Linked DNA regions of Homo sapiens: region 2 is reported to be linked to region 1. The links are microRNA targets in miRTarBase. Many come from high-throughput screens and were not tested one by one. Region 1 holds a microRNA gene; the other region holds the end of a gene's coding sequence.

Evidence for each region. The annotated mature microRNA hsa-miR-190a-3p reads CUAUAUAUCAAACAUAUUCCU and lies in region 1 at 5,171-5,191, opposite strand. An mRNA with a match to its seed (bases 2 to 7 or 8) in the 3' UTR can be bound and repressed. Matches are read on the target gene's strand: a 7mer-m8 pairs with bases 2 to 8, a 7mer-A1 pairs with bases 2 to 7 and ends in A, and an 8mer does both.
Region 2: miRTarBase lists PTPRD as a target of hsa-miR-190a-3p. Seed matches in the 3' UTR shown: 7mer-m8 at 5,530-5,536, 7mer-m8 at 5,522-5,528, 7mer-m8 at 5,489-5,495, 7mer-m8 at 4,495-4,501, 7mer-m8 at 4,493-4,499, 7mer-m8 at 4,491-4,497 and 3 more.

The regions. Positions count from the first base shown.
Region 1 is chr15:62,822,072-62,829,198 of GRCh38, reverse strand. MIR190A (microRNA 190a) reads right to left here and starts at 5,242; the gene lies at 5,158-5,242. The region is part of intron 54 of TLN2 (talin 2); the gene reads right to left.
Region 2 is chr9:8,311,451-8,318,577 of GRCh38, forward strand. It overlaps PTPRD (protein tyrosine phosphatase receptor type D), which reads right to left. Exons shown (of 46, transcript NM_002839.4): 46 at 2,796-6,492. The coding sequence ends at 6,424. Among named protein-coding and RNA genes, the nearest start is that of DMAC1, 520 kb to the left of the region's middle.

The sequences.
Region 1 (7,127 bases):
ACATCTCATGTATTATATATATATAATATAATATATATTATATATATATACCTACTATGTACCCTCAAAAACCAAACAGAAAAAAATTTTAAAGAAAAATAAATAAATAAATAAATAAATGGATAGCCCTCACTGCAGAATCACCTGAGGATCTGGTTAAAGATGCAGATGCTGTTTTGGTAGGTCTGGGGTGGGAGTCAGGAATCTGTATTTCTTACAGAGGTGGTTACACACTACTCTGTAGGAAATGCTGGCCTGGACTCAGGAAAACAAACACCATTTAACTTAAACCTACCAGCCTGTGATCCCCTCCAGGGTGAGACTGTGTTTTATTCAACCTATGTTTCTCTAGCACAAAATCAGGCAGAGGAGCCCATGTGATGATCAACATTTGCTGAATGAATATATCCATTCAAAATGCATTTCCCAAGTTCCAGAGTTCAGCCAGAGCACAACGCACAAGGTAGGAGAAGGAGAAATACACAGAGTAAGCATCCACATCATTAGCATCCACTCCTGAGCCCTGGTGGACAGATGCATACACAGCTATGAGCAAGTTCCTGCCCTGTTTGAGGCCTTGAGTTGTTAATTGTACACTCTACTTGCAGCCTTCAACTGGAATTCACAGTTTGTGACATTTAGTCATGCATGGACATACAAATGTAAACACAGTGGCATTTTACCAAGAGGCACTCTTATGTAACAAGACAGCACTGGGAAAAAGAGTGAACAGATGTACAAACTAAGCTTCTACTCTGCCTAATGAAGGTGTTTGTTGCTGCCTCTGCATGCTGAATTAACTTCTCCTTTGATATACTGTTCTTTTCCCCCTTCCCCTTCATTTGAAAAGGCTATTTGGCCAGGTGCCCATCAGCTCTAAGCAATCGTCTTTCCTGGGCTGTCTGGCCAACTCTTGCTGAGGACAGATTTATCCCTACCTGGGCTTTTTGGTAGCTTCTAGAAAGGTCTGAGTACCCTGTAGTTGACCTCTTCCCTGCATGCTGACCTTCCTTGCTCACCCTTTAAAAAGTCAGTGGTCTGGTGAGATCCCTCTTGGGAAAGGCTATATATTGGGTTGGCTCCCTTCCCCTGTTTCCCAGTTGGGAGAGTATTTGGGACCCCTTTATGTTGCTCTGATGGGTTTAAAGTTTCAGTAGCTATATGTCCCCTGGAAGAGGAAATGGTGGTGGTAGGGGAAGTGGTGTGGAAAGTGGAGAAGGTAAAAGGGACAGCCTTTCCTCATGTTTCTTTTGACATTTGGCCTTTCATGGATTCTGAGAACATGGTCTTCACACTAATTCATTCATCTTCTAAGCCTACTTCCCCTCCTAACCTATCTGATGGAGTCATTACAAGCACGTGATTAGTATATGTAAAGCATGGCTGACTCATAGGAGATGCTCAAAAACTATTAGCAATTTCATTATCAAAAATTGTTTTTTTCAGGTTTGGGGCTAAATTAATCTGTTTCTCTGTCTAAACCCTGTTATGTATCCATAATTCCAATAAAAATTCTTCTTGCTATTTCTGATTACAGCCTAAATTCATTATAAGTAAAACCCACAAATCAGTAAGCGTCAGGTACCAAACAGCATAGATGGGCACCAGCTCCTCTCTCAGCACCCAACCAGGAGTGGGACAATCCGGGTGGTAGTCACTGTTCTGTACTTTGACTATGTGACTGTGGAGTCTTCGCTGCCCTTTCTCCAGGTATCAGTTACTCAGTTTTCTGTCACTGGAGGAGCAACTCAACCTTCCTGGTCCTTTTGCCTAGACATGGACAGTTCCAAATTAAACTTCTCTTAGAAGGCGGTGACTAAAATAAGCAGGAACTACCTTTTCTCTTCTGATTTCTCTTGACCTCCTCCTCAATATCCTTACCAACATCCCCCACTGCCCCCGCTCCTCCTCAACGTCCTTACCCACTTCCCCTGCTCACTGTCCTTGTCAGGTCCTGGGCAAGTGTTGGGCAGGGGAAGAGAATGTCCTCCCATGGTCTTTTTCTTGGCCTTTTCTTATGCCCTGCAACCCCACAGCTCCTTCCGCCAATGAACTTGAAGGTGAAGGAGCATAAGGCATGCATAGGAGATGGCCAAAGGGCTTGCCTCCCTCCCTGAAAACTTACTTTGAGGGAATGCTTTGTTGAGAGCTAAAAACACAATGGTCGCCCTTCTCACAACTGGCTCCACAAACTGAAGAACCACCCGTGTCATCTTTCCAGTGGGGTCTCAGGCTTTGCTCTGTGTTACTCAGAGTCTTGCAGAATGCCTGCTACTAAAAATAAGGTCATAGTGCATCAGAAACTTTAAAAAAACCCTCTTGGATATATATTTTTTAAAGTGTGAACATTTTGCATTTAATTTAAATGTCCTTGAGGGAAAAAAGGAGGCCAGTGTCTAGAACTCCCACAACAGGAGTGAGGCATTTTCCTGCCAGTTGGAAGCCGGAGTGGAGCAGGCAGCCACATTTCTCTTTTTTTTTTGTTGTTGCAAGTTTGGCTGCTACTAGTTTGCTTCTGGTATTGAACTGAGAGGTGCCTTGAGGGAGGCCTTAGCCTGTATGCAAAGCCCCAAACTGTGCAAAGGTTAGATCAGCTTCTCCTCTGGAGGACCCATGGATGGGGTGGCTTCAGGACTGCCACCTTTATTAGTTCAAACAAAAGGTACACCTCCCAGAACAACTGGAACTGCTAAGAGCCAGGCATGGACAGCTGGCCTTGTCTCAGGGAAAGCTCCAGAGAGACCTTAAACAGGCAAAATGGGTGGCAGAGAAACTGCCAAATGGCTGTGCCTGTGACTGGGGAGGGACCACACCCTCCGCATCCGAGGAATACGCGCGAGTTCATGCAGTGTCTGCTGGAAAAGGTCCGCACCTGCATGATTAGTATCTTGGGAGTAGTTTTCCCATAGTATCCATTGCTTTACTTTTGTGTTCAAAATGGAAAGCAACGCCACTGAAATAATCTTTTAATCACTATTTCTGTTTAAGGGGCCCTTGAATGTCGATATAGAAAGCACAGACAAAAGATAACAGGGTTCTTCCCAAGCTGTATCAGATAAACTCCCTACATCTTAAGCCCCCTTTCTGTGTCTGTGAAGGATCTGACAAGGACCTACTGGTCTACCCTGGAGGGGAGTCTCCCATACTTGCTTTTCTTATTTATTTATGTTTTTGAGACCGAGTCTCACTCTGTCACCCAGGCTGGAGTGCAGTGGCACGATCCCGGCTCACGGCAACCTCCGCCTCCCAAGTTCAATCGATTCTCAGCCTCCTGAGTAGCTGGGACTACAGGCGTGCACCACCATGCCTGACTTATTATATATATATATAAATATATATATATATAATATATTTATATATATTATATATTATAATATATATTATAATATAATATATAATATATATTATAATATATAATATATTATATAATATATAATTATAATTATATTTAATATATATAAAAATATATTTTTATATATATTTATATTTATATATATATTGTATTTTTAGTAGAGACTGGGTGAAACCCAGCTGTTGGTCAGGCTGGTCTCGAACTCCTGACCTCAAATGATCCGCCCACCTTGGCCTCCCAAACTGCTGGGATTACAGGTGTGAGCCACCATGCCCGGCCCCATACTTGCTTTTCACACCCTGTATGCTCCTGGTCTGGAACCAATGAGTGCCACTCAAAGCCCAAGTGCAGCCATACAGAAAATGCTGTATTTGTCCTCCTCCTTCCTGAACAGTTGGTTCCTTTTTCCCTTCACCATATTAATCACTACAGAGAACATGCTGGTCAGTGACAAAGTCACCCAAAGAAACAAGAAAATCACATCAATTCAAACAACTGGGCTTCGTCTGCAGGTCCTTTTGAAACCATGTTTTTCTTTGTTCGTAATAACTTGCTGTCTCTTTTCCATGGCCATTTGCCATTTCAGTCAAACAATGTAACTGGACTCAAAACCAAAGCCGGTGTTCTCTAGCTGTGTGAAGGAGGGACTGATTGGGGCAGCATCTTGAAACCCGCCTGACAGAGCACCTGCCAACACACACAGATCGCTTCTCAATGGAGAAGGATTCCAGAGACAGGATCCATTATGTAACTCCAGAAGCCAGGACTCCAACATTACAGGACCCTCTCCTGTGTCATCACCTCTCTGATGTTGCTGTTGGTGACCCTGTCACTATGCATTCACCTGTAAGCAATGTGGCAATGACTTCTAGACACAGTAAGGGGAAGCTTTCATGACTACCTGTTTAAACCATTTGCTTACACCTTTTCTCCTCCAAAACATTGAGAACAGTAGTTCTCTTTCCAGAAAGCAGTGCTCACAAAGTATTTTGTTTGTTGAGAGAACTCAGAATGAACTCACACATACTTCACAGGCTTTTCTATAAGGAAGAGGTCAAAACCAACCAAAGAAGGCTGTTATGTACCAGAAAAAATGTTTTCTATATCATAATCCCAAACTTCCTGCCACAGTCAATTAGGCTATGATATTACTTTCCGATTGTTGGCTTATTCTAAATATTACCAACCTCCACTGACAAGTTAACCTATAACAGGAAATTCAAGAGTTCAGTCAACATTATATTACCTTCATGAGATATATTTAGTCCTATATCCAAGGTTTGTACAAAGCTCACTGACTCAGTATCCATGCAGCTGGTATGGAGGATTTGCTTTATACATTCTGTTACTGTGAGTGGAAAGGGAAGTCATAGAAAACTGATCTGTGCTCCTTGAATTTTTGCTGAAACCCTGACATGAACTTCTAAATTGAAGATCAGGATAAAAATGAACCAAAATGAAACATGAATCTAGATGTGTTTGAGGCTATAATCCTGACCTTTATTCTGTGTCACAGACATGGGTTGGAACCGTTTTTTCCACCAAGCATATTGAATTCCTTAAGGATTCATCACTGCACAAAACTAAGCCACACAGAATACCCCAGGCTCTTATGAAACATCAACACTTATTGTTTCTATAATAAGCAAGTAATCCAGTAATACTGATACAGGTCTCAAATGCTATAAGAAGAAATGGAAGATAACATGAATTGTAATGAGTGCTCCATCTTCTAAATCTACTTGTGATTTTAACGTGTTCTTTCCTGTTGCCTTATAAACTTTATTAGGAACCCCCGGAGACAGGGCAAGACACTGTAGGAATATGTTTGATATATAGTTGGATTAAATAACAACCTAATATATCAAACATATCACACAGAGGCCTGCAGAAAAGGCATCCAGGTTTGACTGAGCTCGAGACTAGGCACAGTATTGAAGGTTACGGCTGCAGGGGGTGGTCACTTTTGCAGCAACTCCGATAACTGTCTTTGGAGCACAAGTCTGCCTGCAGATGTGGAAACGGCGCCATTAACAATACTGTCAGCACATGCACCAGCGCTCACTGACATTCTCATCTCCCCAGGTGAACAGCAGATTCAACGGTGCATGTCTGGGAGATCCCAGGCAAAAAGTGATGCTTAAGTTTTAAGAGCCTGAGGTGGAAATGTACCAGAATCATCATCAAAGACCATGAGCCATTCTCCTTTAAAAACAGGCAACCTGAGACGGTGGTGAGCAGAGCATTTTAGACAAAATTACTGTCTCTCCCCAAACTCTTCCTGAAAGCAGTGTGAATACTCCCCAGAAGGAACACACATCCATTTTATACTGAAGGCATGTGTGTGTACCAGGGTAGGGTTATAGGGATGTAATAAGCAATTGTTTACTGACAGTACCCTGAGGATTTTTTTAAGGTTTTGGGAGAGAATGGAGAGAAGTGATTCAACTCAAAAGACTGGCTGATTTTGGTGCAGATTGTTGTTATTGTTTTTTAATTGGGGAAATAAATTCCTTTATAAAGGCAAGGAAGATATTTCATGCAAAAGTTATTGCAATGTGCCCTATTAGGCACAAAAACTATGGTTTGGGTTGCAGGTTTTCCAAAACAGTTTCATAGATAATATCCACCTCTGGCCATCAGGCAGAGAAAGACTTCAGACCATTGTGAAGCATTCTAGAAGTACCCATCACCCTTCCTAATACGATGGGAGTGAGCTAAGGTAGGAACCCTCAAACAAAGGATTCACATCATCAGTTATGTTAACCTTGACCTTGGCCGAAGGACTCCTTGGCTTTCCTGTAAAAACCCTCAATGTAAACACAAAGGCTATATGATCCTAGAGTACTGTAGGGAGTCCTCACAGGCCTACTTCAGCAGTCATTAATTTTTAAGGTGCTGTTATTTTTTAAACCTTTGTTTTATAAAATGTTAAAACACAGACCCTTCCATCATCCCAATTCCATCATCATTCTTGTACATTCCCTACTTATTTTCTTCATCTGTGAGTTTTTAGAGTTGTAATCATAATAAGTACATAATTCTGCATCCTTTCTGTTATACCATGAGCATTTTCTTCGTGCTACACAGTCCTAGCAACCATTATTTTTCATAGCTGCATAATATTATAGCTGCATAATATTCCTTCGAGGAGTAGCTCTAAGGGCACACATAAACTACAAATGGCCTTTGTGGGACTAGACAAGCCTTCTCTGACAATGGGGTGGGAAACAGGGGCTGGTATGGACTGAAACTGCCACCCAGGGCCATACATAGCCCTCCCAGCTGAGTGACAGTGGTCGGACCCTGGCAAGGTAATTCGCCTCTTGGTGCTTCTGATTCTAATGGACTTTTTCCAAGGATCAGATGAGTGACTCCCATAAAGTACCCAGAAGACTGCCTGGCACAGGCTTGGCAGCTGAACAACGCGAGCTTCCTGGTTTTCTTTCTTCAGGGGCCAGTGGAATAATTTTTATTTCAGGCATTTCCTAGGGAGTAAGTCCCAGACACACATTTTCAGTGATGATGGTGATAATAATGGTGATATAGTTACTATCTACCAAGTCTCACTGTATGTCAGGCAGTGTTCTTATACTATCTTATTTAATTATTATAACAATAATCCTATGGGGTAGGAACTTTAATAATTTTGTTTTCCCATCTGGAGTCGTGAAGTGAACGACCAGACACGGGGAAACCAGGACTCAGACAAGAGCTCAGAAGGACCCTGCGGAAGGACAAAGGGAAAGACATTGAAACAGGAGCTCTTAGAATA
Region 2 (7,127 bases), not on the chromosome of region 1:
TTACTGTGGCCAAAGAACATATTTCACATTATTACAACTCTTCAAATATGTTGAGACTTGCTTTATGGTCCAATTTCTAGTTAATTTAGGTAAATGTTTTAAATGCTTTTATAAATAATGTATATTTTTAAGTTATTGAATTTAGTCGTCTACATAGCTCACTTAGGTAAATTTTGTTAATCAGCTTGTTCATATCTTTTATACCCTTACTGAAGTTTTATTTGGTTTGTTCATTTTATACGTTAATAAGAGAAGCGTTTAAAATCTCCCATGATAGCTGTAGATATGTATGTAACTCCTTTAAGTTCTATTTTTGTTGTCTACATTTTGAGGCCATGTTATGAGGTTCATACACACATATAATTGTCACATCTTCCTGGTGCATTGAAGTTTTTCATCGGAAACTGACCCTTTTATTATTTGGTAATGGTATGGCTGATATTAATATAACTCAGTATAGCTTTCTTTTGGCTATGTTTCCATGGTATATCTTTTGCATCCTTTTACTTTGAGTAGCCTCATGTTCTTACAAGCATTATATAGCTAGGCTAAAAATCTGCATCTTTAAGTTGAATATACTTTATTTACATTTGAAGTAATTACTGTTTTAAATTTTAAATCTCCCATATTACTTTCTATTTGCCCCCTCCTGTCCTAGATTCTCTTTTCTCTTCATTCTTGCCTTGTAAATTGATTTTTTAAAAATTATTCTATCTTCTCACATATTTCAAAGCACCCACAATTTGCTATTTTGAAATACTTATTGTAAAAATTTTAGAAAATGTACGAAGTGCAGCAACAAAATTTTATCACACAGTATCATTTAATAATTATATTTCTTTCCAGTCACTTCTTTGCTTTAAGATGTGTACATAATTTTATATCCCTTCTTGAAAAGTATATTATAATAATTTTTAATGTAGCTATCTTTTTTCCAAAACACTATTTAATAGTGAAATGCTAATGCATTATAAATGGCATTATGGTGTGTATGTAAAATAATATATGTAAAATTACATGTAATATATACATTACATATATGTATTGTATATATAACTGTAAAACATTTTTACACATACACAATTTTACATATTTTAAGTCTTTTTGTATTATTAAACACAAGATTTCACAGGTCTTTGCCTATTTCCTCAGAATTTGCAGAAATTATTTTAAACATTATAAAGTTAAATATTTCTCAGATTCATAATTTTACCAATTATTGTAATTAAAATTCTCATAAAGTTTAATTATGGATACAATTAAGTGAAAGTCCCAAGCTTATAGTTATTATTAACTATTAATTCTGTGTGTGTGTGTACATGTATACAATCAGATCATATTTGTTATTCTTGGTATTCTATCAGATATCTGTTTAAAGTTATGAATCACAAGGAACAAAATATCAAATCTGATACACTTCGAAGTCTCTGTCCTGTTTTTACACAATCAATCAATAGGGTGGTCATATCTGCAAAAGTAAAAGCCAATTAGGTGAAGTGGAAAAAGAGGAGTCTGGTTGTTCATTCAATAACAGGATTTCCAAAATAATGTTTGGATAATGGAATTGTTTTATTCTGTCATCATTTCTAACAAGTAGTTTTAACATTACCAAGCATACCTGTGCTTTGCCTTATGTTAACAAATTAGGCTGATCAGCAGCCAGTTGTTGGTCCCACAATATTCACTGGGGTTTGGCAAAGGGACAGCCACCTTAAACCCTTCTGGATTTGATAACTCAATGCACACATTCTCGCCTTCTGTCCATACTTGTGTTCCTGAGATCATCGCTTACCCCAAGACAGGTTCAATTAGGATCAAGAAGAATTCACTCCATTCTAGGACTTTTGGTTGTGTTGTTGGGGGAAGTAAACTCTTCCACTTGTCTGCTCTGTGGTGTTATGATCCCAAAGCTTCCAGGGACTACAAAAAGGGAGTTTAAAATTGAAACTGTGAAAGTAGAATCAGGCTGGATGATGGGAAGAGACATCACGTCCTGAAGGCATCACTGAGCCCTGAATCAAGTTATGCCTGAAGATGATGTATTCCTACTCTTCTAGTAAATGAGTCCATTCCTAATCTTTTAGTACATGAGTCAGTAAACGCCTTTCTTTTCCTGTAGACCAATTTGAGTCAGACTTTCTGTCACTCACAATTGAAAGTCCTAACTTCAAGGATCCTACACTTTCCTTCATAGCACTGGTCCCATGTGATGTTACTATTACTTCAGTGCCAACCTCTCTCAGTAGACTGTAGTCTGTATGCAAACAGCAGCAGTATCTCATTTGTTCAGAGCTGCATTTCCAATACCTAGAACAATTCTGACCCATTATTGGTACTTGATCATATTGAATTACTGAATAAATAACGCAAACCAAGTATTTTCTTAGCCATGTTCCCAAAGGTATGAATAAATTAACACTATGGAGCTATTTTTATGTGCATGAAAGTTGTTTCGAGATGAAAATACATACATACATATAGATGTATATATACAGTTGTGCACTTAAATTTCTATATAGTAATCTTCCACAGAATCAAAGATTGCCTGTGATCTCTGATATGAATGAAAGCAATGCCTCTTTGTTCTGTGAACTTGGAAAAACTATTTCTCTGAGTCTCTGTTTGCTTACCAGTGAAAAGTGCTTACCTCAAGGTAGATATTTGTAAACAGTAGTCTCTCGGTAAACAGAATTCTTACTAGTACAAGGAACTAACTAGATAACCAGAAGAGAAGAGAGAACAAATAGTCAGTTCAAAACCAAAGTGTTTGCATGGACAAAAGCAAAGGCCAGGGCTGCATAACACTGACATTTTTATTAGAATTCATTTGTAACAAATGGAACTTGTGTCAGCAAAGAACTGATTTTCATACAGACTTCTTTCGCCACCAATGTAACGAAGTAAGAAAATAAAAAGCACGCCTTTCATTCTGTAAAACATTTACGCGTACTACTAATTAGAGGTAATTGTATTTTTTAACAAGCCATTTTACAAGTTATTTGTTTTAATTTTTCAGTCTATGCATCCAAAACGAGAGCAAAGAACACAACTGTTATTATCTTTGTAAAGACACTCCAAGCTGGGATGGCAAAGCCACATAACGGATGGATAGAATGGATCTGTAGCCTTCTGATCTCTGCTGGAGTATCAGGGCACCCATAAACCCAAAAGGAACCAAAACCCAAAAAGAAAAACAAAAAGGGAATTAAAAATAAAAGGACTTAAAGCAAAACCGAAAATAAACAGGAAAGAAAAAAAATACGTGCATTACTGCAGACTTTTTTCCCTTCCTGTTTCTATGTTGTGTTATTTACATACACACAAATGAATTTCCGAAGCAGTTTCTTACAGATGGGTTCAAGTAATATCATTATTGGGTGTAGAATCAATAGGGCAGTGCATAGTACAAAGGTATAGAAAGTGCAAAGTTCCCTAGAGGCCCTTCCCTCCCCTGGCTGTCCTCGCCGTTTTCTAACCATGCAAATCATTTTTAAAAAAGAGCTAAAATAAAGTTCTGTACAAATCACTTTTTATATATTTTGATTTTTTTTACCATTGTAACTAATTACAAAATTATACATAACTACACGTACATAGGTAAATAATAGCACCGTACTGGTTATGATGATGAAAATAACTGGAAACTTGAAAGCTTGTGGTAATGGCAGATAAAGATGGTTCACCTGGGAAATTAAAACTTGAATGGTTGTACAGAAAAGCACAGAGTGGAATGCACATCAATGACAGTAAGGGAGTTAGTTCTAGGAACAGCTCCTGAACAGTAAGATTCCCGCAATAGTCTCCGCCTCGTTCGTCTATGGTATGCATCCCATTCATTTTCTTCTTCTGATTATTGTCATCTTTCCCTTTGCCAAATGGGCAGTTATTGTTTCAGGGAGAGAAGCTGCTCATTGGCCAATCATTCTGGTGTGCAGTGCTCCATCGGATTCTACATGTCCAACAAGGCATGTCTGGATGATGCAATGTCTGTCTGACCCCCTTTGTTTAACTAAAAGAAAATTATAGCACTGAGTAATCTGGCACTTGGATAAATCTCCAAAAAGATACAAACTAAAAGAAAATAATGATAACAGACCCACATAGTGCACATTCTTCTCTGGTTCTGATGTAGGTTAGAGAGTCTCATTCTGAGGTAGCCTTCTAGATACTTTTTTTTAGTATTATATATATTTTCTTTTTTTTCTTTTTCTTTGTTTTTTACAAAAGTGCTCAAATACAATGCTTGCAAATGTTTGGTCTCTTGGATTTCACTCTGCTAGCAATGGGAAAATGTGGAAAACAAAAATCCTTCCATGCAGAACATCCATGAAGCTAAAATTAAACCAAAGTAGTATACTCATACCAAAACTCTTTAAGAGTTCCTTGGGTATTTTGAGGATTATTTAAAATCATGTAATATGTGGCAAACTTATGCCATCATCCATGGCTTCCTATAGAAATTCTGTTGGAAGAATTGGGGGTAAGATACATATATATATATAGTTTATTTCCCCTTTTAGAAAAATCCTAATGGAATATCAAATATATTCCAAAGTTGCCAATGATATTTGTTACTAAAATAAGTTTGGTGCAGTTACTGCATGTTCCAGAGCGGATTTGGAAGGGAATATAAATAAAACAAGTAGCTTTTTCTGATGTTGATGATTGATTATAAAAGGAAGAAGGGCCCTGATTATCCAAGTGCTTTGGGCTGGTACAATCACTAACATCCCCGACTTGGCTGAAAACTAGGAATGCATATTATTCAAAGAGTTTTTGTACATGTGGTAAACAGATAATGCTTTAATAGAAAGTAACAGATACGAACAGTGAATGGAAATACGAACCAAAAGCTAAAAAGAAATGCTATTAAAATAGGCATCAATTATAAGGCACTCTAAATGCAAAACTAAAACCAAAACGAAACAAAGTACAGCACTTCCCAGGAATGCTGTATGCCACAAAATGTTTCTGACTGAACAGAGTAACATGAATTTGGCTTTGCCCCTGTTACATATCATAAATGCAAATTTCATAGCACATACTATAGACAATATACGATTGAATACACTTTTTTTAAACAACTCGATAGCTGATATATTACAACATTCTCCCCTCCTAAAGGGATATGCACTGACCTTTCCCACATGCACACCTCTTAGCTATTTAATAATAATTTTTATTGCACTAGAGTGTTAGAAATATTGAACTTTGTTGGAAGCCTGACTAACAAACAAACAAAACAATTTGTGGATGTGATTGATTGGTTAGGTGGGGGTAGATTAGGTAGGAAATCAGGGGGTGAGGTTTGACAATCAATCACTGATGTGCATTCCTCATTTCCCTTTAAAGAAATACCAATATGTCAAAAAATTAAGAATAAATGGAAAGAGATGTTTACAATAGCTTTTCTACGTTTAAAAAAACTAAATCATGGAAGAACTGACTGACTGATAACTGTATCTATTTTTTGTGTGGACACACTGTCTATATATACATAGACACCCTTATAAAATATGGATATATATGTATATATGTTAGCAGCAACTTTATACTTTGCGCCTCCCTGTTGATTCCAAAAACAAAACAAAATAATAATTATCTTTGATTATTTGAAGAGAATGGGTACTTTCTCACCAATCAAAACTGAAGTGTAAAATTAATATATCTGACGAGACTGATACTGTAGATTGAGTTTTGCACAAAAATGTGCAAATTTTCAAATGATTTGATATTTCTACAGCAAGATATTACAGATAACAGTTCTACAGCTTAAAAAAACCTACGATTTGGAAATAAAAAAATGAAGAGTTATGTAACTTTTTTAAAATTCACTTTATCGAATGATACATTTTGTTAAAAAAAAGTTTACACAGTTAGAAATGAAGCACAGGTCAGCAGTATCTTTACAATACTAAAAAACTAAATCAAGGACTTTCTTTTTAAACATTCCCTCCCCTTTCCCCCTAAAATGTTATTATGAGCAGTATGGTGGGAAGGGGCGATGTCAAAGCAGAGTCCGTTTCATTGTGAGAAGCCACACCAGCACATATCTTGTGCTGAACTGCAGCATTCTGGCAATTTCTCCTTGCACCTTTCAAGCAATCCTGAATAAGATGGTGGTTCTTTGCTGTGATTTCTTCTTCCCTTGATTTTGAATCCTTGAGGTATCTGTAAATAAAATCCTTCAGATGCCTCATCAGTCAGGATTCTCTTCATTATTTTTCAGGTTAGATTATTAAACTGTGAATTCTTGGTCCACCTGGAATAATTTGTTTTTAATTTGTTTTGTGTGTAATAGTCCCACTAAGTAGTTGTTAGCTAGAAGTTAAGAAGGACTTCTCAAGTGCCCTGTATGGCTCAGAAGAGACTCCATGGATATTGAAGGGCCTGTAGTAAAAATCCAGAATGGGTCAGGGGTTTCTACGTTGCATAGTGGTCAAAGCTGCCCAGGTACTCTAGTGCGGCACGATAGGAAAACTGATATTGATCCTGCAGGAGACAATGAATGGGGAGAAGCAAAAGAAGGGACCATGAGCATATTTTAATAGAAAAATAAAAATCAATATTGCATAACAAAATAACATCTATATAGGGGCAAAATCACTACTTTCGTCAACTGGTCTAATCCAATGACCAATTGTTTATAGTGAACAAAGAAAAAGCCACATGGGGTGTTGATTAACTTTGCCAATCAATTTGACTAAAACGATCTCCCAATTCCAAGCAGTGGCAGGTCGAGTGAACATTACCTTCCCAGACAAGTGTTTTCCAAGTAGTATCAAACCATTACCACCAATTGAACACATAAACTTCTTACATGCCTTATAAGCAGATAATGATGAAAATCATCCTTTACAATTATCTGCTTATTCAAGATAACTAATTCTCAGTTTAAATATTTAAGAGAGGCTGATACAGACACAAACTGTCCTGAGAAAAATCTGAATTTACTTATCTTCTGAACTACTGCCAACAGAATTTGAATTTTTAAAAAATTATGTTTGGACAGTAGAGCTTGCAGTGAGAATCACTCACAGTCATTTCAGCTACCCTTTGGCTGTCTCTCTCACTTACATATGATGTTCATATACAGCCAGAAGGTAGCTGGTGCGGCACACCAGGCA